4 linked regions of the Homo sapiens genome follow. The protein of the gene in region 1 interacts with the protein of each later gene in a biochemical or structural test. Each region holds a gene or a part of one and is shown on either strand. Other genes may lie near its edges. The genes, in order: PLG, F3, MARVELD2 and ENO1.

Region 1 (7,023 bases):
GCACAATGCATGGAAATAAATGTTTCTGAATCAACAGCAAACAGGCTTCATCGGGTAGGAGAGCGCTGAGCCCTCCAGGGACAATGCACATCAATGATGTCCCACTGTCCTTTGGTGCTGGGGCTCTAAGGCCTCCACTGGGTCAGGCTCCTGAAGGGAGACCCATTCTCCAAAGACCCCCGAGGGTCACCACTCCCTGTCCAGGGGTGTGGCCTCATAGCTCCTTTTGAACAGGGGCACAGGAAGGACGGCTTTAGAGCATTCAAAAAATAACTTTGCCAAAATAATAATAATAATAATAGAAAGGAAGAAGAGGCTGAGCATGGTGGCTCACACCTGTAATCCCTACACTTTGGGAGGCTGAGACAAGCAGATCACCTGAGGTCAGGAGTTCGAGACTAGCCTGGCCAAAATGGTGAAACCTCATCTCTACTGAAAATAGAAAAAAAAATTAGCCAGGTGTGGTGGCGTGCACCTGCAGTTGCAGCTACTCAGGAGGCTGAAGCAGGAGAATCGCTTGAACCCAGGAGATGGAGGTTGCAGTGAGCTGAGATCATGCCACTGCACTCCAGCCTGGGCGACAAGAGCAAAACTCCACCTCAGAAAAAAAAAAAAAAAAAAAAAAGAAGGAAGGAAAAAGAAACACTCCTTTATGTCTTCTAAGGATAGACATGAAATGCGTGAGCCTTGGAACACCTTCTCCCTCTCCTGCCCCACGTGAGCTGGAGCTTACATGCCTTCTTGTTTTCAGTACTGCCGTAACCCTGATGGTGATGTAGGTGGTCCCTGGTGCTACACGACAAATCCAAGAAAACTTTACGACTACTGTGATGTCCCTCAGTGTGGTAGGTTGCCTTCTTTTTGGTAAGGAAACTGCTTACTTAATATGGATTTGCAACAAAAAAGGAAAAGGGCTTCTGAGCAGACTGCTTCTGGGGAGGAGATAGCTGCCCTCTCCATCAGACCCCACTCTTCATCATGGGCATCTTGAATCTGCCCTACTATTGGCCACATTTGTTAGAGGAACACCTGCCCATCGCCCCAGGCACACATAAATAAAATAAATGTAAAATTCCCAAAGAGCAAGCTTAGAGGTAATCTAGTCAGCCCCAGGATGGTCCCACTGAATGCTGCCATGTCTAGCGTGGGATGCATGAAAAATTTAGAGTCATTCGGATGAAAAACTTTCCCTTTCCACAGCTGAGAAGTAAGAAAGAAAATACAAACAGCAGGAAACAGGTAAGCATGTAACGCACATTGTAAACCTCAGATGGCCATCCTAGGAATTCAATGAAAGGTAGTGCAGCTCTTTAGCCCCAGATGGCCTTTCTTATAAGTTTACTACTCACAAGTCACATTAGTGACATAGCTTAGAGACTGCTTGTTGGGTTCCATCCTCATTGCTCTGAGACTCTTGTTGGGAGTATGAGGCTTGGATCAGGGGAAGGGGAGTTGACATTAGTTCTTAAAGAATTGGAATAACAAATCCATGGGTATTTCTGAAAAAAAAAAAAAAAAAAAGAAAGGAAGCTACTTGGAATTGTCCCATATTTAACATTCTGCTGACCAATCAATTTGTCCTAGTTACAGAAAACCACCCTGGACTTCTCCTATGCATAATTTGGTTGCTTGTGGTTGGGTCTGCCATGTGGAGGGACCTTGAGCTGGGGGAAGGAGCTTGGCCTCCAAGTCCACTGAAGACCAGCATCCTGAGATTGCCTGGGAAGGTGGTACAGGGCAGTGATGAAGATCATGGGAGCCACACTGCCCAGCTTCGCATTTGGGCTTCTCCTAGGGACACCAAGAGGGAGGAAGGAGGGGTTAGGATGGTATGAAAGATTCTACTTGGCCAATATTATTGTAATGCGGCATTGTGATCTCTGGATTTAGCATGAGTTGATAGCTGACTTTTTCTGCAGAAGCATCTTGGTGGCACCTCTAACTCAAAGTCCCTCGATGGAGTCAGTTCCAGTTCTCCACTTCTGGCCCCATCTGGTACACACCACTGCCTCTCACTGCCCGGGCTCTCTATCCTTGACAGGCTGCCTTGAAGTTGAGCCCAGACTGATTTTCTTGCCTCAGACCCCACTACCGTGCCTGGGACTCATGCACCTTTGACTCCCATGGAAGGGAAGTGCAGTAGTTTCCCAGGTGCAATTCTGGTGTCCTCACCCACATTGAGGATGTACAAGAATCAGGTTCTTAGAGATTGGAGAAAGAAGGAAGAATGGGAACAAGATTTTTCCCAAAGGACTGTGAGGTCCCCCACCTAACCTTGATGTGAGACAAGTGAGGTTAACCCCAAGCCTGGTGAGAAGCGTTCCCATCAGACACTTGGAAATCCTGAGGACTGTTTCATGCAGAAGGATATGGTTTATTCAGGTTTGACTCGTGCTTGAGAAAGCTAGAGCCTCTGGTGGTGAATGATTTTAATAACTATTTCCTTTCCACCAACATATACAGTACAAATAATAATAAGCAAAAATAAATAGAAACATTCAGTTTTGTTTTGAATAGTAGGAGCAGGGTACCATCATTTCTGTAGTTACTCTTTTAGTACAACGATGCATGTCTACTGTATGTAAGGCATACTAGCAGAAATTGAGCTCAGCACTAGAGAAGATGATTGCATTCTATGCCTTGCTTCTTTTTTTAAAAAAAGGCTTCCATAGATAGATTCTCAGAACAGCCCATGGCAAATGTAAAGTTATTTGGAAAACCCAGGTTCCAGATTCACTAGAGCATAGAATCTCTGGTTGGTTGGGAAGGAATTTCCTCTTACAGTTGTTACTAATAATTGTATGAACAATTATTTAAAATATTAACATTTACATTTGTGAAGACCTTGAAGGGCTGGAGACAACAGAGAAGCATTTTTGAATACCCTCTGCAGCCCCTGCACTGTTGTAGGCATTGGTGGATGGTACCAAAGATGGGACACTGTCCCTACCTCCAGAGACCCTGTGGGCTGGCTACAGAGAGAAGGCAGGGAGGAGGAAAAGAAGAATAAAGTCATATGTTTAAGTCACCCCCACGGCCGTTGGTTAGTCATGGGAGGCTCCCCAGAGGAGCTGTCCTGAAGCTGGCTGACAGAAGGCAACATTTCAACTTAGGACAGTAATCCTTGCTACATACAATCACATACACACACACACACACGTGCACACACAGAGACTCACATGGAAAAATAAACCTTTGTGCCTTTCAGCAGTGATGACAATTATGGTTTTCAGTAAACTTTACATGGTTTAGATGGTGATGGTGATGATGATGATTATGGGAAGGATGGCATCATGTTCTAAACATACTGCATGGAGTCAGAATAACAATGACAAATAACCATTTGTCCCAATCAAGGTTTTCTCAGAAAATATCTCATTCTGATGCTAAACTATACCAGTCTGTTTGATCACTTCTCCAACAAAATAATTACAAAGTGCTTATATTTTCTTGAAAAGAGAGGGTCCTGTGTTGTCTACTACCACTTTTGAAACTTAGAGAAAATGTTCCAAAAGATGATGATTTTACTATTTAGTTCGGCCTTTAAGATGTCAAAAACTCAGTGCTTGGAATTTGTCTCGAATTACACCACAAAATTGCTACCTTGTCTCAAATGGGATTTCTTTCCCACCTTGTGCCACAGCGGCCCCTTCATTTGATTGTGGGAAGCCTCAAGTGGAGCCGAAGAAATGTCCTGGAAGGGTTGTAGGGGGGTGTGTGGCCCACCCACATTCCTGGCCCTGGCAAGTCAGTCTTAGAACAAGGTAAGAACAGGCCCAGAAACGATTTATACTGTCCCTCCACGTAAGCCCTGCAAAACCCTTCTACATTTACATAAAATCCACACAGCTGAGGCATCAGCACCTGCCTCTAAGTTTTCTGAAGGAGGAAAAAAGCTACAAAAATTAATATATGTATATATACATATATATTTTTATAGGTTCTCTACTGTGAAAATGACAAAAATTGCTGTCTTTTTCTTGATCTGGGCAGCTCCATCAAAATCTGTAGGCACAGTGATTTGCACCAAGTTCCAATATTGCTGGAAAATACTGAAGATGCTCTGAGGATTTCTATGGATATCCATTGTCTCATTGTCAGATGAAAAGAGGGGGAAGTTTTTAGAAATGTGACACTTTCTGGGTTGGGAGAGCAAGGACAAAATTATCTCCAGTCTATCACAGGCACAGATTCTTTTTCTTTGGACACTTTCGTGAATCATTGAATTCAATGCAGAGGCTACTCATCCATTCGCAAACAAAAAAATTCTAGGTCATGATCCCCATAAATGAAGAGTGATCAGTCCAATCCCAGGGAACCTGGACATTTTGGGTATTGTTTCAGTGGAACATGCCTTTCATAAGTTCCATTTTCTTGGGTATCTCTTAGGAAGCAAGCATAGGAAACAGGCCCATCCGTCTGCCTGTTTTGCTTCCTCATCTCACTTCTACACGAGGGTGCCTGTGCTCAATTGCTGTTTTCCCCTAAAGAGACTCTTTTCCATAAGTTTGTGAAATGCCATCGACAAACCTGATCGCATTGCATTTCACTCTGCTGTTGAGTCGATTTTTCTTTATTTTATCATTTAGTAACTCCTTGCTCTACAGAGCTTTCACCTTCCACATATTTCAGATTCATTCTTTCCTAAACTATGTGGTGGTCTACGTCCTCACTGACTTATCAACATGCTACCATCATGCACTTCCTATCTCTATTCCTCTTCTTTAAATTTGGTTCCAAATGGCTCACACCATTATTCTGAGCTATTACCTGCCTACGCAGTCCTAGAAAGTAAGTGATTCAGGAAACATTCCCCAAAAGTAAAGTTTCTCAGGTAAGATCAGAAGACTCCCATGAGTCACTGCTGCTCAGGATCACATCTGGCTCCTTGAAGAGTGATTCATCAGACCTTACATAGATCTTGTCATAAAAATGAAAGAGGCCTCGGGGGAAGGTCTTGGGCTGGTGGCTTCTGTTGGAGTCCTGGGCTGTGGGGTGAAAGCCGTGGCTGTAGAGCTTCATGCGGAGTTACTTAGCTTTGCTCTCCTGTGGACAGGCCATGCCTGTGCCTCCCCCAAGCATCGGAAAAATTGGCATAGATGGGCCCTTCTCAAAAATCCCACTCCTGGAGCACTGGCCAAAATTACTACCATCCTGATGCTGGGCTTGCAGTCCTTTCCTTTGGGAATATGAACATGGTCAAAATTAAGTGAACGTGTCTTTCTGGCTTTCTGTACAATGGAGCAGAACAAAGTATCAATTTAACTAAAATTTGAACTAAATCCTCTTTCCAGGTTTGGAATGCACTTCTGTGGAGGCACCTTGATATCCCCAGAGTGGGTGTTGACTGCTGCCCACTGCTTGGAGAAGTATGTTTAGGGGACAATTGACATGAAGTCTTGTCTTAAATACTTTTTCTGTCCTTCTTTTCCTCCTTTCCTCCTTTCCTTTCTCACTCTTCCTCCCTTCCTTCTCTGGCTGTGACACTAGGGACCAGGCCAGGGCAATTGGATAAGAGAGAAGGGAAGGGTTTCTAGAAAGAAACTGCAGAGGAAAGACACAGTACAGATGATTTTGTGGGCCTGAATAAACTGCAGAACAGAGCTGTTCACTACCATAGGCTGTATCAGTCTCTGCCCAAACAGCCCAAGAACATTCCTTAACTGCCTGTTTCAAGCAAATCATGAATTTTGCTTCTTGCCACTCAGAAGTCACTAATTCTGAGTGGCCAAGGGTGTCAGGGAGACAGCACCAATTTCATGGCACAGAGGTTACCTGAAGGGGCTGGACCATATTTTCCTCTTGACGTCCTCATCTTTTCTAGGTCCCCAAGGCCTTCATCCTACAAGGTCATCCTGGGTGCACACCAAGAAGTGAATCTCGAACCGCATGTTCAGGAAATAGAAGTGTCTAGGCTGTTCTTGGAGCCCACACGAAAAGATATTGCCTTGCTAAAGCTAAGCAGGTACTCGTTCACCTGTGGTCTTCACCCCACGCTGGTGAAGATATTTGCTTTATGTCTGGGTTTTATGGGCCATGGCCACTGCATGGCAGTGGGGAGGAACTGTCTATCACATGAAAGGCTCAAGGGCTTTGGGGACAGCATCAATCTTCAACCCTAGCCCTGCCACATGCTAGCTGTGCTCTTGAGAAAGGCAGCAGGACTCCGTTTTCTCATGTGGAAAAAGAGTTGAAATGAGGTACTCTGTTACTCCTAGAACTCACTTAATGTTCACCAGTTCATACACATTCATGATCAGAGAACGATTCAGTTATTCCAGGCTGACAATTCCCCCTTCATCATAATATGTTTAAGAGAATCATATAAGACTATATTTGTTTCAAAGCACTTTAAAAACCACAAGATCGAGTTGGGTGTCTGGTGTGGGTGCCTGTAATCCCAGCTACTTGGGAGGCTGAGGCAGGAGGGTCACTTGAGTCCCGGAGTTTGAGGCTGCAGTGAGTTATGATCGTGTCACTGCATTCCAGCCTGGGCGACAGAGTAAGACACTGTACCAAAAAAAAAAACACCAAAAAAACAAAAAACAAACAAAAAAAAAACAACTTCACAATGTCAAAAAAATCACAAATACAGTTTATAAATGTAAATTATATTATTATTATTGTCTTCTTTGATTTGATTTTCTCTTTCCTGTTGAAATGTTGTTTCACTAAGCCTGACAAAGTGAAACATTTGCTTATGTCACTCATTTAGTGCTGTTTGGAGCCAGATACTAGTTGAGTCAGCTAAGAAACAGCTATTTGTAGGAGAAGCAGGTTTGGGACAGGTGACAAGGCACGCAGGGCGCTCGCTGTGCTGGTGGTTCTGGAAGACAGGGTGTCAGTGTGGACAGGGATGAGCATGGCCTGGATGAGAAGGCACGGGGCAGGAGCCTGAGCTGCTCTCCTGGGCCTGGCCACAAGCCCAGGGCAGCTTCTCTGGGTCTGTGAACTGAGGGGTGATGTCCTGGGATGCTCTGACACTCTAGAAGGAGAGAAGAGCCTTTCCAGCTCAGCCTTTAT
Region 2 (7,023 bases), on another chromosome or scaffold:
GGGACTGTTCCTCGCACAATGGGCCTGAGCTCCCAACATATGCACATGCATGTACACACACGTGTCCGCCATATACACACATGCATGCATGTGGGTATATTTGATATACTCAATCCCTTCCCTTGATGGGTTAGACTCTACAGCCTCTGTGGCAACAGCCCACAGTGGGTACTCACGAATGTCTACTGTGTCCTGCTGCAGCTGGTCCAGAAGCCACCCCCAGAATTAGAATTTAAGCATGAAAAAATGCCCAGGGAAATCTGTGACTTGTTGCTAAATCCTAAACACAGTTTGTGTATCCAGTGCTCAGCAGAGGGCTTAGCACATGACAGGTGCTCAAGAAAACACCTGCTAATACAAGGGCACAATCAACACAGAAACATTTCTAAATGTCCAAAATCTTTTTTGTACCAAAGCAAAATCAAAACCAAAACAAACAAATAACAACAAAAAACCTCCAGGCAGTTTGTTTTCCTGAATATTTAACCAAGGAAGTATATCCCAGCCCTGAGGGTGGAGCTACTCCTCCAGAAGTCACCCACAGCACCCATACCCCCAGGCAAATGGCTGGCAGAGCCACTCACCTCTGAATTCCCCTTTCTCCTGGCCCATACACTCTACCGGGCTGTCTGTACTCTTCCGGTTAACTGTTCGGGAGGGAATCACTGCTTGAACACTGAAACAGTAGTTTTCTCCTTTATCCACATCAATCAAAAACTCATTAGTGTTTGTTTTGGCTGTTTTCTGTAAAAAGATAGAGTTCTTAATTCATCTGGGCTCTGAGTCAATTCTTTCCCCTTTATTAAGTCACTGTGGAAGTAAAAACCTAGGTTCTAAGCAAAGCCTACAAGAACACAGCTGACACGTGAAGGATTAGAAGTGACTTCGCTAATCAGTTTCCCTTGATCACTGCTAAAAATGCCTTTTCCAAGACTGAGAAGATCCAATTTAGGCATATTGAACCCTATTGAGCCCCTTTAGAAGATATCTGCAGTAAAAGAAAAAGGAAGGGAGTATTATGCATTGAACCAAAAACAAATTTTGTGCCTGGGATCCTCAATAGAGGGAGAAATGTGAGCATGGCGGGACCTTTAGAGATGACCTGATCCAGCCGGTTGGCTGAGGAACCTGGGTCTCCGAGGGGGCCCTGCCCAGAGTCACAGGGTAGTGCAGAGTCACAGGTAGGACCAGGCCTGTTGTCCACCCCTCCCCACAGTGCGCGCTCCCCCTTCTACTCCATCACCTTCTCAACAACTCTGTTCTGCTATTTTTGAATTGGGGAAGAAATGGGTTGTAAAACCCAAGTATTCACAATTTAAAACAGGTCATAAAAACAAATTAAAAAATGCTCACCTTTCCTGAACTTGAAGATTTCCAATAATAAAGTGTATAAATTAAGTCCTTGCCAAAAACATCCCGGAGGCTTAGGAAAGTGTTGTTCCTTCTGACTAAAGTCCGTTCATCTTCTACGGTCACATTCACTTTTGTTCCCACCTGTTCAAAACTCTGAATTGTTGGCTGTCCGAGGTTTGCTGAAACAAAGGAAATGAGCTTGGTTGGAACCAAAGAATTCTGTACAAAGTCAAATCCTGTTTTGTTATCACAATTGACAACTTAATTATCTCTCATATAAAACATGTGCATAGAACCAGCTCCCTGAAAGAAGCAGGCGTGGCGGCCTGGAGCTGAATCCTAAGACATTCTGTGGTAGTGCTGGCCCAAGGGGAAGACAATGGAGCCTCAGATGTCATTTTAAGTTTTCTAGTAGTCACATTAGAAAAAGTAAAAAGGAACAGGTGAAATTAATTTTAATAATATATTTTATTTAACCAAAGACAGTTGACCCCTGAACAACATGGGTTTGAACTCTGTGGATCCACTTGTATGCAAATTTTTTTAAATAAAAGTTACACCAAGTGTGCCGCCTCCTACTTCCTCCATCTTTTCTCCTGCCGTGGCCCCTGCTCTTCCTCCTCCTCCTCCTCCTCAGCCTACTCAACATGAAGATGACGAGGATGAACACCTTTATGATGATCCACTTCCACTTTATCAATAGTAAATATATTTTCTCTTCCTTATAATTCTTTCTCTTCCTTCCTTCTTTCTTTTCTTTTCTTTTCTTTTTTTTCTTTCTTTCCCTTTCTTTTTTAGACAGAGTCTCGCTCTGTCACCCAGGCCGGAGTGCAGTGGCGCAATCTCAGTTCACTGCAACCTCCTCCACCTGGGTTGAAGTGATTCTCCTGCCTCAGCCTCCCAAGTAGCTGGGATTACAGGCACCCACAACCACGCCTGGCTAATTTTTGTATTTTTAGTAGAGATGGGGTTTCACCATGTTGGCCAGGCTGGTCTTGAACTCCTGACCTCAAGTGATCCACCCGCCTTAGCATCCCAAAGTTCTGAGATTACAGGCACGAGCCACCATGCCCAGCCTCTTTTCCTTATAATTTTCTTAATAACATTTTCTTTCCTCTAGCTTACTTTATTGTAAGAATACAGTATATAATACACGCAACATGAAAAATGTGTGTTAATTGACTGTTTATCTTATTGGTAAGGCTGCAGTCAACAGTCAACCGATAGGTAGGCTATTAGTAGTTAAGTTTTTGGGGAGTCAAGTTATACTCGGATTTTCAACTGCACAGGGAGTCGGTGCCTCTCAGCCATGCATTGCTTGAGTCAACTGCATATATCTGGAATATAATCATTTTAATGTGTAATCAATATAAAAAAGTTTTGAGATATTCTACACTTCTTAAATTCCAGTGTGTACTTTATACTTAGAGCATTAGCCATATTTCAAGTGGTCAACAGCCACATGTGGCTAGTGGCTACTATACTGAACAGGGTGGTAGCATAAACTACGATATTTTAGGTTCAAAAATATGTAGGGCTGTGAGAAAGCCCAGGAAATGTCCTTGGTACCTCGAGAAGCCGGATTTAACCACGGGGTCTCTGCAATGGCTCAATTATCTCATGTGCTTTGGTTAAATGACAGGAAAACAAACATCAATTCACAGGCCAAATATGTGTGTGCACATGCAAAACAAACACATAAAATATCTTCTATCTTGCACCAACAAAGGATTTGAAGTAGCTTACAAAAAAACTCAAGAACTATTAATATAAAAGAGAATCATGAGGATGCCATTAATTAGGGGGGAAATGAATGTCAACCATGCCACAGTCACCAGAGGGGCTGCTGACGCTGCTACATTCTTGCCTGGTGCCACAAAAGACACAAGCAGAAGCACCTGGGGGTCTGGAGGGTCTTGCAAATGGGGGCTCTGGGAAGGCAGCCACATTCACCTGGGGTCAGGCCCCCTATTTCAACCCTCAAAGTAGATACCAGAGGAGGATGGTTGGTTGGTTGTCCGTCCACCCCTTCTTTTCACCATTCCTACCTTGAGAAACTGTTCTCTCTCGCTGGGCCTAACACTCACACAACACCTTCATTCTAACCAGCTGGCCTTACAAGAGAAGCTAATTTCACTCTACTCAATGTGCTACATGCATTTATCTAAATTGCCTAGCTCAGAGCCACAGTTGCGGCAAAAGAATAAATCTCCTACTTGACAGGAATTCTCTTCATTCTTTTACTGGCTCCTAGGGCCAGCTTACAGGGGCAAAGGCTGAGGAGGAAAGTATTCCACCTTTCCAAAACCAGAACGAGGGTGACAGGCAGATGGCTGGGCAGGTGCTGGCACATCACGGAACTCAAATCATGGCCAACTGATTAGAAAAGGTCAGCATAATTAGGCTAATTATGGGCTCAGAGGGAAACCATGGACTTTCCTCATTGATTTATGACCGTTTGGGAAAAATCCTCAACTGGGATTTTTAGTGTGATAACGGGACAGAAAAATCAGGATACATGATATATATATAGGGAAAAGCTAAAACCCCGGCCTTGGTGGATTTCCTATCCCTACCCGCTTCCCTGGCCCGCCCTCTCCCAACACACATTCAGCCGGTTACTGAGGACAGTAACAGGGTCTGGGGACAGACTGGGGGAGAAAGTTACTTGATGACACTGTCATCAGCTCCAAAGTTCACATTCTGTGAACCTCCTACCACATCTGGAATGTGTGAAGAGGGCTGTGATACATACCAGTTTCTGAGAAAAAAAGAATAAATATTTTTAATTTTGTAGCCCCTAAAGGCACAAGATCACGAGAATGTTCAGACGTTTCTAACAAGAATGAACGGTATTACAGCCCAAGCCACTTACTCTCCAGGTAAGGTGTGAACTCTGGGGAGTTCTCATACAGAGGCTCCCCAGCAGAACCGGTGCTCTCCACATTCCCTGCCGGGTAGGAGAAGACCCGTGCCAAGTACGTCTGCTTCACATCCTTCACAATCTCGTCGGTGAGGTCACACTCTGTGTCTGTTGTGTAAAAGCATTTGCTTTTCCAATCTCCTGACTTAGTGCTAAAGAAAGAAAAGAAGGAAGAAACATAAATGGAATGTTACAATTTGCACCCAACAAGATAGACTGCTTCCTGGCTGTGGTGTTCTGTGCTAACATCAGGAGCCCTACAATCAATCCTAATGATGCAGTCACTGTGCTGAGCACTTTGCTTTTTTTTAAACATTGTTTTGTAGAGATGGGGTCCTGCTATGTTGCCCAGGCTGATCCTTCTGCTTCGGCCTCCCAAAGTGCTGAATGTACAGGTGTGAGCCATCATACCTAGCAACACCGAGCACTTGGGATGCATGTTTGAGTCCTCATAGCAACCCAGGGGATGGCTCTGTAATTTGCCTTGTTTTTACAAATAAGGCTACTGAGACAAAGTGAGATTGGGTGACTAGCTCAAAATCACACAGCTGGACTTTGAACCAGACAGCTATTTGACTCTTGGATCTGTACTCAACCATTTTGTTAAATATCTTTCTTTTAGAATGTAGACGCTCTCTGTCAGGGTAACAGGAGAGAAAGAGCAGTTTTCCATCAAGATGAGGCAACTGAGACAAAGTGAGGTTGTTTACTATAGTCTACTTATTATAGTTGTTTGTTATATAATGTTCTATATTCTATGTAGAATAGAGTCTATATAGTGAGTCTACATAATAACATGTTATACATATATTCTCTCATGACCACTATTAATAATATTATTAATCATTCATTGACTCCACTATATGCCAGGTATTCTGCTGGACCCTTTACTCATGTTACTTCATTTGATATAATCCTTCCAAGAAGGTGTTGGATCTTTCTTATCCATGAGGACACTGAAGCTCACAGGCACTAAGCAACTTGCAGAAGGTCACATATCTAACGAGTGGCAGAGCTGGGTCTGTTTGCCCCATTATACTACATGCCTCCCTTCCTTTGCAAGATGTGAATCCATCCCAACAAAGATTACAGAATAAGAGTACAGGTAGTATCTGTCTAATAAAGTCTGAGACTAAAAAGCTAAAGACAGATCTTTCTTTTGTGAGACGTCACTGAAGGGGAAATGATTTAAAGGACTTCTACTGACAATGAAATTCTTCTAAATGACCAAAATAATAAATAGGTGAAGCGTCACTGCAACTTGATTCACACACTTCTGTCCCATGGAAAGTGACAGTTATGCTGCTCTTCCCTTTGGCATTACTGACTGCCAGAGCCAGACCCATCGTTCAAGGCCAGGTCCCAACTCCACCTGCTCCAGGAATCTCCAGATCTCCCTGCTGAGCATTTACATCTCCCTCCCCTGTCCCCCAGCATGAGTTTCTCCACGATGCTGTTAATATGAACACAGTCTGCCTGGTACGAGGGCTGCATGCCCTTGTGTGCCCCCATTAAGCAGCAGGGCTATAGGGTCTCGCTGACTATTAGATGGTTTGCATTTACAGGTTGAATTAATACATAATCTCAGGGAAAACGAGGCACCACATGGATTCCATTGTCTAAATTCACACATAAAAGCCACAAATATATTTTCTTTCAAAATCTGAACTAAGTAACCAGGCCAAAAGGATTTGGGTAAACACATTCTTTATCCTAAAGTGCACAAACTAAGATTGATACTGAAATATTTTGGTTTCTATTTATTTAATTTTATGTGATAAAAGTAGAGAGGGTATTTTGTTCCCGAATGACCAAAATGTGTTTTATTTTATCATTTCCATTTCAAAAAGTGAATGAGACTATGCTGTTTCCTTTTTATCAGTACAGCAAATAGTTGTTCAGATAACAGGAGAAAGTCTCCTAGGGCTTTCTATGTAACATAGAGATACAGTATTTGGTTCCTCCCAGCTCACAGCAGGGACCACATACTCTATAGCAAAATTTAGCACAAGGATTTATACAGTACCCTGGTAAGTAGTAAAACTGTATAAACAGGTAATGAAGGGACAATTCTGTAGAAAATCCCTCTGAATGCCATTAATAGCATTAACACTTTAAAAGCCTCCAAGGTTCCTCCAGGCATTGCAAAACCCTCTGATTTGGAATTTTGAGTTAACTAAAAAATTCAGTCACTAATTTGGTTGCAGGTTGTTTTCCAGAAGCTTTGTAAATTCAGCTTTAGAATTCAGAACATTTCCATGGAATGAATATCACCGGTGACGGTTTGTGCTAAGGCTTAAGCCAATAACATTTCCCAACCACCACTGAAAACTGTTAGCAAAGGTGAAAAATGCAGTTGGAGTTCCAAGTAGGGGCTTCTGCACAGCAGTAGTGTCCTGCGGCTGGAGCCAGGCTGCAGTAGTGAGAGCAGTCGGGAGGGAAGAGGGGCAGCTGCTTAAGATGCTAACTGTAGGGAGGGAAAACAGGCAGAGAGGAAGGCCAACTGAGGAGATGCAGTGGGCAAGACTTTCCTTCTTCCTCCCGCTTTGGAGCCTCCCATCAGACTGTGGCAGAGCCACCTGAGGGATGGTGGTGTGTGGATACTGGGTAGACTTTGGTTCCAGACCTGACATGGGCACTCACCATCAGTGTAGTCATGAATAAATCCCTCACTTCTCAGAGCAACAGTTTCCTCAACTGTAAAATGACTGCTCTGGTCCTTTTTAACCAGGAATCTCATTTATTCC
Region 3 (7,838 bases), on another chromosome or scaffold:
TTATTGTTTTATTTATTTAATATTTTTAAGACAGGGTCTCACTCTGTTTCCCAGGCCAGAGCATAGGAGCACAATCATAGCTCACTGCAGCCTCAATCTCCCTGGCTCAAGCACTCCAGCTGCCTCAGCCTCCTGAGTAGCTGGGACTACAGGTGCATGCCACCATACCCAGCTAATTCTTTTTTTTTTTTTTTTTGAGACAGAGTCTCAATCTGTTGCCCAGGCTGGAGTGCAGTGGTGCCATCTCGGCTCACTGCAAGCTCCGCCTCCCAGGTTCATGCCATTCTCCTGCCTCAGCCTCCCAAGTAGCTGGGACTACAGGTGCTCGCCACCACGCCCGGCTAATTTTTTGTATTTTTAGTAGAGATGGGGACCATGTTAGCCGGGATGATCTTGATCTCCTGACCTCATAATCCACCCGCCTCGGCCTCCCAAAGTGCTGGGATTACAGGTGTGAGCCACCACGCTCGGCCGCTAATTCTTTAAAATTTTTAGTAGACATTAAGTATCACTATGTTGCCTAGGCTGGTCTTGAACTCCTGGGCTCAAGCGATCCTCCTGCCTTGGCCACCCAAAGTGCTGGGATTACAAGCGTTAGCCACTGCACCTGGTCTGATAACCCCATCTTTATACTGTTGAACAATTTGGAAATTCCTAAGGCTTTATTTTATTTTACTTTGGAAAACGAAGACCCTTCATTTAACCTGCCTTGCACCAGGCATGCTGAAAGTATACTGGTGGACAAACCAGACTGAAATCCTTGCCTTCATGATGCTTTAACCGGGGGAGTGCCGGGCAGATTGACAGATGATAGATAAATGAAATATACAGTATGCTAAAGAACAAAGTTGAGAAAGGGGGTAAAGACTGCAATGGGGACAGGATGTTACCATCTTAAACCGAGTGGGCAGGGAAATCTTCACAGAGAAAGGGATATCTGAGTATAGAACTGAAGGTGAAGGAGGAAGCCAGGCCATTATCAGGGACAAGTGTTCAGGCAGATGGAATAGCTAGCGCAAATGCCCTGAAGCAGGAGTGCCTGGTATGTTCAAGAAATATTTAGGCATGGAAGCTACTGTGGCAGCAGCAAAGTGGGTAAGAAGGTGAATAGTAGAACTGAGGCCATCTGAATCATGTAGGGCCTTGAAAACCACTGGAAAGAAAGGACTTTGTCTTTTGCTAGGAGTGAGATGAGAAGCCACTGGAGGATTCTGAATAGAGGAGTGACATGACTTGACTTGTTTTAACAGTATCACTATGGATGCTGTGTTGAGAGTACACTCCAGAAGGCAAGAGGTAAAACAGGAAGACTGGCTAGGCCATTGAAATAATCCAATGGATCACTGAGATCTTGAGAAGAGGTCAAATGCTAGACAGGTATTTAAAATTTTTATTATAGAATTTTTCAAACATAATAAAAAGTAGAAAGAATAGCATTATGAACCCTTGTGTACCCACATCCAGCTTCTACACTTATCGATTTATGGCCAAACTTGTTTCATTTATACTCCCCATACTATTTCCTCTGCCAATAGAGTCCTCTGAAGTAAACCCCAGACATCTGATCATTTTATCTATCTATACCTCATTCTCCACCCCTCCAGCTTAGCCTTGGGGAGCAGCAGACTGAAGAGTGTTTCAGATGCGTTAAAAATCCAGGTAGAGACGTTAAGAGGGCAAGCAAGGCACACAGGGTATGTACAGACTGGAGACAAGGGAATGCGGTGGAAACCCAGGGTCTTCTAATAGGGCACTCCGACCTTAGAGGATTAACTGTGATGGCCCCAGCAGGGTGCCCAATGCAAAGCGGCTCTGTATATTATAACAATCAGTTATTTTTGTACCTTTCTCTTTCTTTCTCTAAAAAAGTGTAAGTTCTAGAAATGCTATTACGACTCTAGTTTTTGAAACACATTCCTAAGAAATGTAGAAGCAAAAGCACAACAAATGATTTTAGCAAGTTTTACACAGCATTTACAGGATACGCTATGCTTAATTCAACTCACTGGTAAAAATACGATTCACTGTAATGGATTTAACTCTTCACCTGTGAAGTGGCTTATTTGAATCAAACCACCCTATCCATTTTTAAAGAAAAAACAAGCAATTATTAAAGAGTTGTGGAAAAGCAAGATAATGTGATTTTTAGAAGGGAATGGTTAGCTGTATTTCATTACATCTTAAATATCTGGATACCCCTAATGTCTTTCAAGATGTCACTGAGAGTTCGTTCTGGTCCCGCAGGTCGCGGCAGCGTGTGTCTTTGTCCTGCTCAGGCCCCGGACCCTTACTCCACTCTTGGACACTCATCTTGGAAAGCCGCGGCAATGGCAGGAGAAATGGCTGCCCCAGCAAAGTGTCACAGGAATCATGCCTGGTCACCTTTACACAAACAGAACCACCGGTTTACCTGGCTTAAAAGTTTTGCTGGACCCAAGAAACGGGTAGATTTCGGATACTTCTGCGCTTCCGAGGGGTCGGGAAAGGCTCTGCGGTTCTAACTAACCCACGACTGCCCGGGGGTACCGAGCATTTTAGCTGTGGGGTCTCCCCCGCGCCAGCCTCTGGGCGCCCGGTCCCACAAATCTCATTGTGTCCTCGGTTCTGCCCGCGCCGGCTAGGCGTTCGTCTTCGCGTTTCTGGCTGAAACCCACTGTCTTTGGAGATTCCGACCCAACGAGGCCGAAACTAAGCCGGGAGACCTCCCAGGTAAGGAGCACCGAGATCGCCCCGAGGTGCGCGCCCCGCCCCGCGCCCGGAAGGACGGCGGCTCGGCCGCACCTGCGTCCGCAGAGCGAAACCTGGCGGGACGCGGGCCTCCCCGGATCCCTGGCTCCGGCCTCCCCCGCGGGCTATGGCAGGCTGAGCGCCGAGCGCGGGCAGCCGTCCGTCGCAGCACACCTGGGCCGGGGGCCGCCGGGCCCTCCTCTCCCGGTCACGTGGCCCCACCCCGGTCCCACTTACCTGCGCAGCCGCCAGGAAGAGCGCGCACGCTGCCCAGGACTCTGAAACCGGTATCGGGCTCCCGGGGTGGGGGCGGGGCCGGGACGGGACGAGCCCAGCTTTCCCCGCCCGGCTTTGCCCCGCCCGGATCTGTCGGCCCGACAACCGCTCTGGGCCCAGGCTGCTCGGTGCCACCAGCCGGCACGTCGCGGCAATGACCACACACTGGGCTCTTTTGGAAAGAGTTTACAGTTCTCATCGCAACGTTGCCATCCTCTTCCCTATCTTTTGAAAAGTTTGACACTGGGGGAGGGAGATTGGTGCACTGTGCTTAAGGACCCATGGCAGCGAGTGCGTGCTAGATAATGTTAAAAGACAGGAGAAACAAAATTAAATTCAACATTTTAATTGTGATATAACTTATGTAAATACTTTCCAAAAAGTATCTAAGATATTCCACTGTACAACACATCAAAACTATCTGAGAAGCGGGAGACAATAAAGTGTAAATAAGGCACACAGTTTACACTCGTAATTGCATCCTAAACTGTTGAATAGTTGATATTTACAACCCCCCAATAACGTTTTTGCATCCTGAATTAGTCCTTCACATCTTGATATTTGGCATAATGTTCAAACACACTTTATACACACTGACCGCTCCTTAAACCACTCACAGATTTAATAAATACCGAAAAAATTAAGAGATTTGAAGGCTTGATCTTCTATTTACTTCAAGATGACAGAAGAGTAGGTTTCTTGTGATGAAATACTACAAGAATGAAGAATTAACAAACTGTTGTGTAATTCATCAGAAAAGCATATTAACTCTGCTGAAGTACCACTGAATGAAACAAAAATGAAGCTGTGAAGTAGCAATCTGATTAGCAGGCTGGCTTCTATGTCCCATCACTCTCGTAGTCTTCTATTATTATGTTTTCTTCCATGTCTCCTTGGGCTGAAAAGGGCTGGGGCTGGCTAGCAGGCAGTTCACTGGCACTATTCTGACTCAAAGGAAGAGACCAGGTTTCCGGCACAGTGGCTTGAGTGGGTTCACCCAGAGATTCCTCTGCAGAATGTCCTCCATTAAGCTGGGCTTCATCTCCGCTGTCAGGGTCTATCATTCCATGTTCCCTGTCAGTCAGGGCTTCCATTTTCAATCTGTCAGATTCACAGTGCAGGCATTAATAAGAACCAAAGGAGAAGATTTTTAAATTACACCATGAGTGTGATGATTATGAAGCCATCTTTCATTTACCTACATTGTGCTGTTTAGCTAGTCCCTTTAACTATAAAAACAAAACTACAAGGTAAATGACAAACTGAATAAGTTCCTACAACTTAAAATACAAAAAGGAGCTGAACACGATGGCTCATGCCTGTACTATCTGCACTGTGGGAGGCCAAGGCAGGCAGATCACTTGAGGCCAGGAGTTCAAGACCAGCCTGGCCAACATGGCAAAAACCCATCTCTATTGAAAATAGAAAAATTAGCCAGGCGTGGTGGCACGCATCTGTAATCCCAGCTACTCAGGAGGCTGAGGCAGGAGAATTGTTTGAACCCAGGAGGCAGAAGCTGCAGTGAGCCAAGCTCGTGCCACTGAACTCCAGCCTGTACGACAGAGCAAGACTCTGTCTCCAAACAAAAAACAAACAAACAAAAAAACCAAACCAAACCACAACAACAAAAACACCTAAAAATAAAAAGAAATAATGTCTTCAGTAAAGAATTTTTCTTTTTTCTTTTTTTTCATTGAGACTGTCTTTCTCTATCGCCCAGGCAGGAGTGCAGTGGTGCAATCTCAGTTTACTGCAACCTCTGCCTCCCAGGTTCAAGCGATTCTCCTGCCTCAGCCTCCCAAGTAGCTGGGATTACAGGCACATGCCATCATGCCCAACTAATTTGTATTTTTAGTAGAGATGGGGTTTCACCATGTTGGCCAGGGTAATCTTGAACTCCCGAACTCAGGTGATCCATCTGCCTCCGCCTCCCAAAGTGCGGGGATTACAAGTGTGAGCCACCACACCCAGCCTTCAGTAAAGAATTTTTACAAATTAAAAAGGAAAAAATGAAATAGAAAAATGGGCACAAACATGGACAACTTATAAAACAAATACAAATGGTTCCTAAATTGTTAAATCTAATTTGTAATTTTAAAAATGAAAATTAACATAATGAGCTACTACTGTCATCTTTTTTTTTTTTTGAGACAGTCTTGCTCTGTCACCCAGGCTACAGGGCAGTAGCACGATCTTGGCTCACTGCAACCTCCACTTCAGGTTCAAGCGATTCTCCTGTCTCAGCCTCTGGAGTAGCAGGGATTACACGCGGGCACCACCACACCCAGCTAGTTTTTGTATTTTTAGCAGAGATAGGGTTTCACCATGTTGGCCAGGCTGGTCTCGAACTCCTGACCTTAGATGATCCACCCACCTCAGCCTCCCAAAGTGCTGGGATTACAAGCATGAGCCACTGCGCCTGGCCTATTACTGTCATCTTCTAAACTGGCAAAGATACTTTTAAAACCCAGTGGTGGCAAGGGTTAGGAGAAAAGAACATACTGATACACTGTAAGTGGATACAAAACTGGCAAAATATTCTTGCCAACAATTTGGCAATAAAGAGGAAAAGCCCCAAAAGGTATATACCTATTGATCCAGCAATTTCATTTGTAGGAATTCACCCTAAGTAAATAGTATTTGAAGTGCATGATGACTTATCTATAAGGCTGGGATAGTAAAAGCTGAAAAAAAGCTAAATGGGCAAAAATAACGTGTAGGTTGAATTACAGGAAATTAAACACCTATTAAATATTAAGTATTAATATTTAATACTAAATACTAAACATATGAACAATGGTTTTAAATATGGTCAACATAAATAAAAGATAGTACCAGTCATTGTAATATATAGCACTGAAAATACTGCCTCTCGTGGCCAGGCGTGGTGGCTCACGCCTGTAATCCCAGCACTTTGGGAGGCCGAAGTGGGCGGATCACGAGGTCAGGAGATCAAGACCATCCTGGCTAACACAGTGAAACCCTGTCTCTACTAAAAATACAAAAAATTAGCTGGGCGTGGTGGCGGGCGCCTGTAGTCCCAGCTACTCGGCAGGCTGAGGCAGGAGAATGGTGTGAGCCCAGAAGGTGGAGCTTGCAGTGAGCCGAGATCGTGCTACTGCACTCCAGCCTGGGCGATAAAGCTAGACTCCGTCTACAAAAAAAAAAGAAAAGAAAATACTGCCTCTCAAGTCACATCAAGTAGGTAGTTGAACCAATAATAAAATAGTGAAGATTCTCATTCAATTTAGCCTTGTGTAAATTGCAGCAACTCAATACATCTCAGGAGCAAAAATACAATAGAACATACTTGTCTTTATTTTGATGCCATAATCTTAGGGGGTTGGGGAGAGAAGCCATCAAAGAGACTTGGTCCTGCTTTCATTCAGAGGGATGTGAGAAGAAAAGCAGTGTTTATGAAATGTGTAAGCCCTGATCACATCCCAGTGGGACGATGCTTCAAGATCCATCCATCATGGTCTTTCTGCGATAGGAAAGATGGGCCCCACATAGCTAAGCCAGTATACAGAAAAAAACATTAACACTACAAAGGCCTTAATGAATCTTGGAGGGTAAAGAGGGGGAAAAAGCTCACATCACAGGAGTTTTCCATTTGGGACCAGAAATAGGAGAAAAGGTAGGAGGAGTCAGAGGTGCCATTTCTATCACTTACTTTTGTCCATGCATTCAGTAAGCAAGATTTTTTTAAATCTTTTTTTTGAGATGGAGTTTTGCTTTTGTTGCCCAGGCTGGGGTGCAATGGTGTGATCTTGGCTCACTGCAACCTCCACCTCCTGGGTTGAAGCGATTCTCCTGCCTCAGCCTCCTGAGTAGCTGGGATTACAGGCATGTGCCACCACACCCAGCTAAATTTTGTATTTTTAGTAGAGACACGGTTTCACCATGTTGTCCAGGCTGGTCTTGAACTCCTTATCTCAGGTGATCCACCTGCCTCGGGCTCCCAAAGTGCTGGGATTACAAGCATAAGCCACCACGCCCGGCCATTTTTAAAATCTTTAAACAATTCCTAAGTGCTTAATTCGATCTTACAAATAAGCTAAGTCAAACTGAAATATAAGTTTTGTGTTAATCACTGATAATGGCACAGAAGCTACTTTCCAATAAAATGAACAGTATATATATATATATATATATATATATATATAGACAGACATCTATTTTTTGCTTGTTTAAATTTTCTAAAATAAGAAAATATGAAGGACTCTTCTACTTTCTGAGGCAGTTCCTAGTCACTGCAGGTCTTCAAGCATAGGCTAAGAACATCTCTCAACAGGAAAGCTGGCAAGGGGTTTCTAGATTTGTTGAGTTGGAGGATTTTAAAGATTCCTCTGCCTTTGTGATTCCATGCTTCCATTTAATCTGGTATAGTCCATTGGGAGTGGGTGAAGATATGCTGTTATATTTAAGAAAAGGAAGGGTCTACAATACAATTATGTTTATAAATTACTAGGTACAGTATGTCTTTCTTGGATGTTACAGGTAACAGTTATTGATTCATACTGAACATATTCAGTAGACATTTCATTATCAGCTTTTTGGAAATTGAGATGATCAGCTTACCTTCCAAAGTGTCGCTTCAGAGGGAGCCTTCCAATATCTTGGATAAAAGAAATCTGAGCTGAAACAGATTTTTTAAAAGTTGTAAACAATTTTCCAAAGAAAATATACAAATGGCCAATAAGCACCTGAAAAGATGCTGAACATCACTAATCTTTAGAGAAATGCAAATCCAAGCCATAGTGAGATACCAATTCACATCTATTAGGATGACTGTTACAAAAAACCAGAAAACAAGAAGTGTGGGTAAGGATGTG
Region 4 (7,231 bases), on another chromosome or scaffold:
GGACCGTGTGATCTTGGCTACTGCCACTTCCTGGGACTTTCCAATTTCACAGTACTTGGGTCTTCAGTGTTGTTATGTCATTAATGATAACATCTTTATTTTATTTTAGTTACTTTTTTAAGAGATGGCGGTCTCACTATGCTGCCCAGGCTGCTCTCAAACTCCTGGGCTCAAGCGATCCTCCCCTGCCTTGGCCTCCCAAAGCATGCTAGGATGATTATAGGGGTAAGCCACCAGGACCAGCCAATAATGACATCTAATTATTTCTTCCCAACGGGGTTTTATAATTTGTAAATAGAGGAAAGATTCTTTGAACACCAGGATACTTCAAGGGAAGGGGCTTCCTTTAACACCACCTTAAAAAAAAAAATACAAGAATTTCCAGCAATGAACAACAAATACCAATTCCTCAAAGAAAAACCCATTCTTACTTTTTTCCTTGGCGCTCTCCAAAGAAACTAACTGAACAACTTATAGAACTGAGGTGGGTGAGAGGAACTTAGTGTTTAAAGCCATTATCTACCTGGGCTCCCCTCCAACATCTTCTCTGGAATGTCCTGAGGTGGCAAGTGGCAGGTTTTTAACTTTCAAAATTATTTACTGAAGTCACTTCTGTGGCTTTGTTGTCTATGTAACAATGGAGTTTTATTCATTAGCCAAAAAAAGGTACTTACTTTTTACTAGGTTCCAAAAAGGCAAATTTGTTTAAACATATTTTTAGATTTAATTTTGCGTTTTGGCAAATTATATACCCGAGTAACATTTCCATCACTGCAAAAAGTTATCTCAGGCCATTTCCAGTCAATATCCCCCTGCCCCATCTCCAGGCCACCACTGTGGTATACTTTGAGTATTTCAGTCATACTTTTAAAGGCAATTTTATTAGGGTGCCTCAGTACTTTTGTTTTCATTTTAGTGACTTAAGACGAAAGAAAGTCTTGGCCGGGCGCGGTGGCTCACGCCTGTAATCCCAGCACTTTGGGAGGCCGAGGAGGGTGGATCACGAGGTCAGGAGAGGAGGCTGAGGCAGAAGAATGGTGTGAACCCGGGAGGTGGAGCTTGCAGTGAGTCGAGATCGCGCCACTACACTCCAGCCTGGGCGACAGAGAGACTCCGTCTCAGAAAAAAAAAAAAAGACAAACGTCTTAGGATGTGAAAATAAAGTGTGATTTTTTTTTTATTTTTTGAGACGGAGTTTCGCTGTTGTCGCCCAGACTGGAGTGCAATGGCGCCATTTTGGCTCACTGCAACCTCAGCCTCCTGTCTCAGCCTCCCGAGTAGGTGGGATTACAGGCGCCTGCCATTACGCCCAGGTGATTTTTTTTTTTTTTTGAGACGGAGTCGCGCTCTTTCGCCCAGGCTAGAGTGCAGTGACACGATCTCGACTCACTGCAGGCTCCGCCTCCAGAGTAGCTGGGACTACAGGCGCCCACCACCACACCCGGCTAATTTTTTGTATTTTTAGTAGAGATGGGGTTTAGTAGAGTAGGATGGTCTCGATCTCCTGACCTCGTGAGCCACCCACCTCGGCCTCCCAAAGTGCTAGGATTACAGGCGTGAGCCACCGCGCCTGGTCGATTTTTGTATTTTCAGTAGAGACGGGGTTTCACCACGTTGGTCAGGCTGGTCTCTAACTCCCGACCTCAGGTGATCCTGAGGAGGCCCACCTCGGCATCCCAAAGTGCTCGGATTACAGGCGTGAGCCACCGCGCCCGGACCATTCACAGCTTTTTTAGCTGCCTGGATGGAACCCCGAATTAGGGACACGGTAAATGAATGGAGCAGTCAGGGCCCGGGTGGGCCTGAAAGGCAAGTGAAGCAATGGACCCTACCGCCCAGAGAAGCGCACAGAGCAGGGGAACATTGAACAGGAAGCTTTCTTAAAATACATCCTTCTTGGCCTAGCGCGGTGGCTCACGCCTGTAATCCCAGCACTTTGGGAGGCCGAGGCGGGCGGATCACCTGAGGTCGGGAGCTCAAGACCAGCCTGGCCAACATGGTGAAACACCGCCTCTACTAAAACAACAACAACAACAAAAAAAAAACAAAATTAGCCGGGCGTGGTGGCGCATGCCTGTAATCCCAGCTACTCGGGAGGCTGAGGTAGGAGAATCGCTTGAACCCAGGAGGCCGAGGTTGCGGTGAACCGAGATCCGAGATCGCGCAATTGCACTCCAGCCTGGGCAACAATAGCAAAACTCAAAAAAAAAAAAAAACCAAATCAGATCAGGCCCGATTTTTGGTGGCCAGCCGGGGAGCCGCTCTTGCCCAACTTGGGCGAGGTCGCCTGGAGGACTTGCCAATGATCTAACGGCTCTGCTGTAGGTTCCTCAAGAGGTGCCTTCTCGGAGTTAAATGAGTCACCGCTTACTAGGCAGAAGCGCGGGCCGCGAGCGCGGGCGAGAGGCGGGGGCTACCGGTGGGGGAGGGGGCCGCAGCCTCGTGGCCATCTCCACTATCGCCGCCCTCCTCCATTTTAGGAAGGGCCTGGCCTGAGTGGCCACCGCCGCTAAGTCTGCGTCTATCCCAAAAACCTTACACTTGGCTACGATGGAAAAGCAACTTCCACTCCCAACTCCCGCTGTGCTAAGCAGCTCGCGTGTGCAGCTCCCGACCTTCCCTGACAGTGACTCGGCCCCGCAGTCGGTAATCACGTGTTGATCTGCACTTTCCCCTCCAAAGAAATCGGGGGCCCAGCACGTGCGCCTGGCATTGCGCCCCCGCCCCGGGCCTCGGGGTGAGCGGGGGCGCCAGTTCCCACCCAGGGAGGCGGCTTGCACGTGCCCCCGACCCCGCCACGCTGGGCCTGCGGGCGCGCCGCCTCCCTCGGAGGGAAAAGAGCCCCACAAGCCCAGAAAAGCCCTGCGCCGCCTGCCCGTTGCTCAGCCCTTCCCCAATCATTACCTAGCCACTGGGTCTCGTCGCCTAGGAGAGGAAGCGGAGGGTGCTGCAGACACCGAGGTGAACGTAAAGCCGGCGAGATCTCCGTGCTCCGGGTACCCACAGATACTGTCCGCGCCGCCCGCGCCGACTTCCTGCCTAGCTAAGGCGAGCCCCACCCACTTCCCGCCTCCGGGGCACGCCCCCTCAGCTCCGCCTCGCCATTCGTCGGGAGAGCCGTCACTCATTCCCTCACCTCCCGGAAAGGGGTGGGACTGCGACGGCTGCAGTAGCGTGGAAAGGGGGGTGACGTCCCGCGGACTTGAGGCGGGCAGATCTGGGGGGCCCCGACTCCCCAGCGGCCCTGTAGTGGTGCGGGCGAAACTCTGGCCCCAGATAGGACCGGTGAGCCGAACTGGGGTGTGCGGAGCCGGGGCTCCGGGGGATGGCCCGGGGCGGCGTGGCGGGCATGAGAGCTCGGGGCTCCGTCACGTACTCCGAGTCCCGCACGCACTCAGCGTCGCTCTGGGGCCCCACGTCCGGCCCTCGACCTTGCTGACAACTTTGGCGGCCCGGGCCTGCCGCGGCCCTCCTGCCCCGCCCCTCCTGCCTCGCGCCGCGATCCGAGAGACCCCGTTGGCGTCGAGTCGTTGAGAGGCTGCGCGCCTCGGCCCCACTCCGGGGTTGGGGCGCTGGCCCCGCCGCAGCGCTGCGTGTCCGGGGCCACGTGCGCCGCCTGCGCCTGCGCGCTGCCCTCCAGCCGCGCCCGTCTGGCCGGGCTCCGCCTGGCACCCGCCAAGGTGACCCTGTCCCTTTCTCCTTGCTGCGGTGAGAATCAGGCCGAGACAGCCAAAGGAAGGTTCACTTTCCTTTAATTCTACCTCATACTTTTTGAGTGCCTTCTAGGTGTCCGGCGCGCCCCCACGTGCTTCCCCAGTGTTAATTCATTCTCTCTCTAGTCCATGTCATGTTGCCTCTCAAATTTTACATCCCTCTCATTCCCATCTAGGGAACTAGATCAAACCTACCTGGATTCTTGTGAACCATTCATGTGAATTATTTGGAACTGGAATTTCACACAGACCCGGGGAATTTCTCAAAGTTCAAGACGGGTCATATTCCGTGGAATACGGAAGGAGTTGGAGTGATTTCACTTTTCTGATCAAGAACTGATAGCCATTAAAACTCAGCTCCGCAATATATCCCCCCACTCCAAGGGAGGGCTGAGATGATCACTTCGTTTTCTGTTACGGCTACTTTTATATTTTTCAACATTACTGCTGGTCTGTAAGAGAACTAAAACATCTGATTTTCCTCATTTCCTTGTAAAGAGGTGTTCAAATATGTACTTGAATTTAATTATTTCTTCTGGTCAGCTGCAAAACCTGCTTTTCTTCCTTAACCCCTAGCATTTTTATCCTCTTAGCTACAGACAGGTTTCCATGGCGTTGGTTAAAAATTAAGGCCTATTGAGACCATAGTATTTGCTTTCCAGTGAGTAAGAAGCAAGAACTTTAGGATTAAATTCAGCAAAAAGAAAAAAAAAAAGAGTAAAATTTTGCAAGCAGAGTTTGTGATTTCACCAGCAACACACTAACGTTTTTGGCTACTGAAAACCACTATCCCCAGCCCCATGACTCAGCAGCTAAATCAACAGCCAACATCTCCTACTGGTAAGGACTCTAAGAAATCAGGCACTTGGTACTCTCAGAGCAATTCTAAGGCGTGGCCCTGAAAGGGCTCCAAACAATCTTATTTTACATAAAAATGGTTAGAGAGATAAAGATACTCTGCTGTGGCCAGAACCAGTAAATCTAGCAGGAAATCAGAGGCCGAACATGATCCCGGACTGCTGCCGTTGCAAGATTCTTGGAGGCTGCAGCGCCACATTCTGAGCCAGCACTTCGACCTCACATTGTAGCTAAAATGTTAATGATTACTAGAGATGTCCTGAAATCTTTTTCAAAATTCACAGGCTGCCAAATGCCCTCCCTGTTTCCATAGCTCCTTAGGCTTTGTTAGCAGGCTGTGGGGTTCACATTTGCTTGTAGTCAGCACAACGGCATTGCATTTAGTTATTATTTCTCACTTGCTGTAAGCTTGTTGAGAAGTTTTATTGGTGGTGGGCAGGTGGGGAATAACTGTCCAAAGCTATCAGAATACCACACCTTGAAGCACTGTAGGTAACACATGCATGGTGTCTGCAGGTGGCCGGGATCAAGGGAGAGTGAATCTGCTACGACCTGTAACTCGCTTGGATTACTGATTCTCCCTGTGATACGTGTGTAAAAATCACTGGTCAGCTTGAGAAAGGGATCTTTGTGAAAGAGGGTCTCCAGCCAGATAGGGAACTTCAGGGTTGGATAAGGAGCTCTGGGGAGGTAAGATACCAGATGAGTGCAGAAGGGGATGTAGCTGGATGGTCCCTCCTCATAACAGATCATGAGGTTTTGGTATTCATCACTCAGTATTTCACGTACACCAGAGACTACATAAAGCGTATATAAATCTCTGTGTACCCACATCCCGCTTAAGAAATGGAACACCATGCTGGGCGCGGTGGCTCACGCCTGTCATCCCAGCACTTTGGGAGGCCGAGGCGGGCGGATGACGAGGTCAGGAGTTCCAAGACTAGCCTGACCAACATGGTGAAACCCCGTCTCTACTAAAAATATAAAAATCAGCTGGGCTTGGTGGCAGGCGCCTGTAGTCCCAGTTACTCAGGAGGCTGAGGCAGGAGAACCACTTGAACCCGGGAGGCGGAGCTTGCAGTGAGCCGAGATCACGCCACTGCACTCCAGCCTGGATGACAGAGCGAGACACCGTCTCCAAAAAAAAAAAAAAAAAAAAAGAAAGAAAGAAAGAAATGGAACCCTAGAGTCCAGGCTTAGTGGCTCACATCAGTACTCCCAGCACTTAGGGAGGCTGAGGCAGGAGGATTGCTTGAGCCCAGGAGTTCCAGAACAGCAGAACAGCCTGGGCAACATGGAGGAGACCCCAGTCTCTGTAAAAACTAAAAAATTAGGCAGATGTGGCACATGCCTGTAGTCCTATCCCAGCTGCTTGGGAGACTCGGGTGGGAGTGTCACTTGAGCCCAGGAGGTTAAGATTACAATGAGCTATGATTGTACCAGTGCACTCCAGCCTGGGAGATAAAGACCTGTCTCAAAGGAAGAAATGGGGCCGGACATGGTGGCTCACCCCTATAATCCCATCACTTTGGGAGGCTGAGGGGGGTGGATCACCTGAGGTCAGGAGTTTGAGACCAGCCTGGCCAACATGGTGAAACCCCATCTCGACTAAAAATACAAAAAATTAGCCAGGTGTGGTGGCACATGCCTGTAATCCCAGCTACTCAGGAGGCTAAGGCAAGAGAATTGCTTGAACCCAAGAGGCAGAGGTTGCAGTGAGCCAAGATCATGCCATTGCACTCCAGCCTGGGCAACAAGAGTTAAAAAAAGAAAAGAAATGGAAAGTTAAAAAAAAAAAAGAAAAAAGAAATGGAGGCCGGGTGCGGTGGCTCATGCCTGTAATCCCAGCACTTTGGGAGGTTAAGGCGGGTGGATGACCTGAGGTCAGGAGTTCAAGACCAGCCTGGCCAACATGGTGAAACCCCATCTCTACCAAAAATACAAAGATTAGCCGGGTGTGGTGGTACATGCCTGTACTCCCAGCTGCTCGGGAGGCTGAGGCAGGAGAATCATTTGAACCCGGGAGGCGGAGGTTGCAATGAGCCAAGAGTGTGCCATTACACTCCAGCCGGGCGACAGAGCAAGATTCCTTCTCAAAAAAATAAAAAAAAGAAATGGAACATTAGTAATGTCATTTAGGTCCCCTGTATGTTCTTTGACCCCAGAGGTAGCCACTATTCTAAATTTTGTGTTTTATTATTCCCTTGCTTTTTTTTTTTTTTTTTTTTTTTTTTGAGACGGAGTCTCACTCTGTCGCACAGGCTGGAGTGCAGTGGCTGATCTCAGCTCACTTTAAGTTCCGCCTCTCCGGTTCACACCATTCTCTTGCCTCAGCCTCCCGAGTAGCTGGGACTAGAGGTGCCCGCCACCACACCCAGCTAATTTTTTGTATTTTTGGTAGAGATGGGGTTTCACCATGTTAGCCAGAATGGTCTCGATCTCCTGACCTCGTGATCCACCTGCTTCAGCCTCCCAAAGTGCTGGGATTACAAGTGTGAGCCACCGCACCTGGTCTATTCCCTTGCTTTTTAAAATGATTTTTTTTTTTTTATTTTTAGAAGGAGTCTCATTTTTTTTTGCCCAGGCTGGAGTGCACTGATGCGATCTCGACTCACTGCAACCTCTGCCTCCTGGATTCAAGCGATCCTCCTGCCTCAGCC

The links.
Region 2: the proteins of PLG (region 1) and F3 form a complex in vitro, tested with the Homo sapiens proteins (one study listed by BioGRID).
Region 3: the proteins of PLG (region 1) and MARVELD2 interact in a biophysical measurement, tested with the Homo sapiens proteins (one study listed by IntAct).
Region 4: the proteins of PLG (region 1) and ENO1 form a complex in vitro, tested with the Homo sapiens proteins (one study listed by BioGRID).

Annotation. Positions count from the first base shown.
Region 1 is NC_000006.12:160,733,244-160,740,266, forward strand, and holds part of PLG (plasminogen isoform 1 precursor), read left to right. Parts: intron 1-751; coding exon 752-845; intron 846-3,643; coding exon 3,644-3,764; intron 3,765-5,294; coding exon 5,295-5,369; intron 5,370-5,824; coding exon 5,825-5,965; intron 5,966-7,023. UniProt on the Homo sapiens protein: Plasmin dissolves the fibrin of blood clots and acts as a proteolytic factor in a variety of other processes including embryonic development, tissue remodeling, tumor invasion, and inflammation. In ovulation, weakens the walls of the Graafian follicle.
Region 2 is NC_000001.11:94,531,737-94,538,759, forward strand, and holds part of F3 (tissue factor isoform 1 precursor), read right to left. Parts: intron 4,429-7,023; coding exon 4,229-4,428; intron 1,533-4,228; coding exon 1,354-1,532; intron 745-1,353; coding exon 585-744; intron 1-584. UniProt on the Homo sapiens protein: Initiates blood coagulation by forming a complex with circulating factor VII or VIIa. The [TF:VIIa] complex activates factors IX or X by specific limited proteolysis.
Region 3 is NC_000005.10:69,410,297-69,418,134, reverse strand, and holds the start of MARVELD2 (MARVEL domain-containing protein 2), read right to left. Parts: upstream 3,020-7,838; 5' UTR 2,965-3,019; exon of another isoform or gene 2,411-2,964; intron 1-2,410. Other genes in the region: cell cycle checkpoint protein RAD17, read right to left, coding at 3,843-4,104, 7,585-7,642. UniProt on the Homo sapiens protein: Plays a role in the formation of tricellular tight junctions and of epithelial barriers.
Region 4 is NC_000001.11:8,875,676-8,882,906, forward strand, and holds the start of ENO1 (alpha-enolase), read right to left. Parts: upstream 3,012-7,231; 5' UTR 2,905-3,011; intron 1-2,904. UniProt on the Homo sapiens protein: Glycolytic enzyme the catalyzes the conversion of 2-phosphoglycerate to phosphoenolpyruvate. In addition to glycolysis, involved in various processes such as growth control, hypoxia tolerance and allergic responses.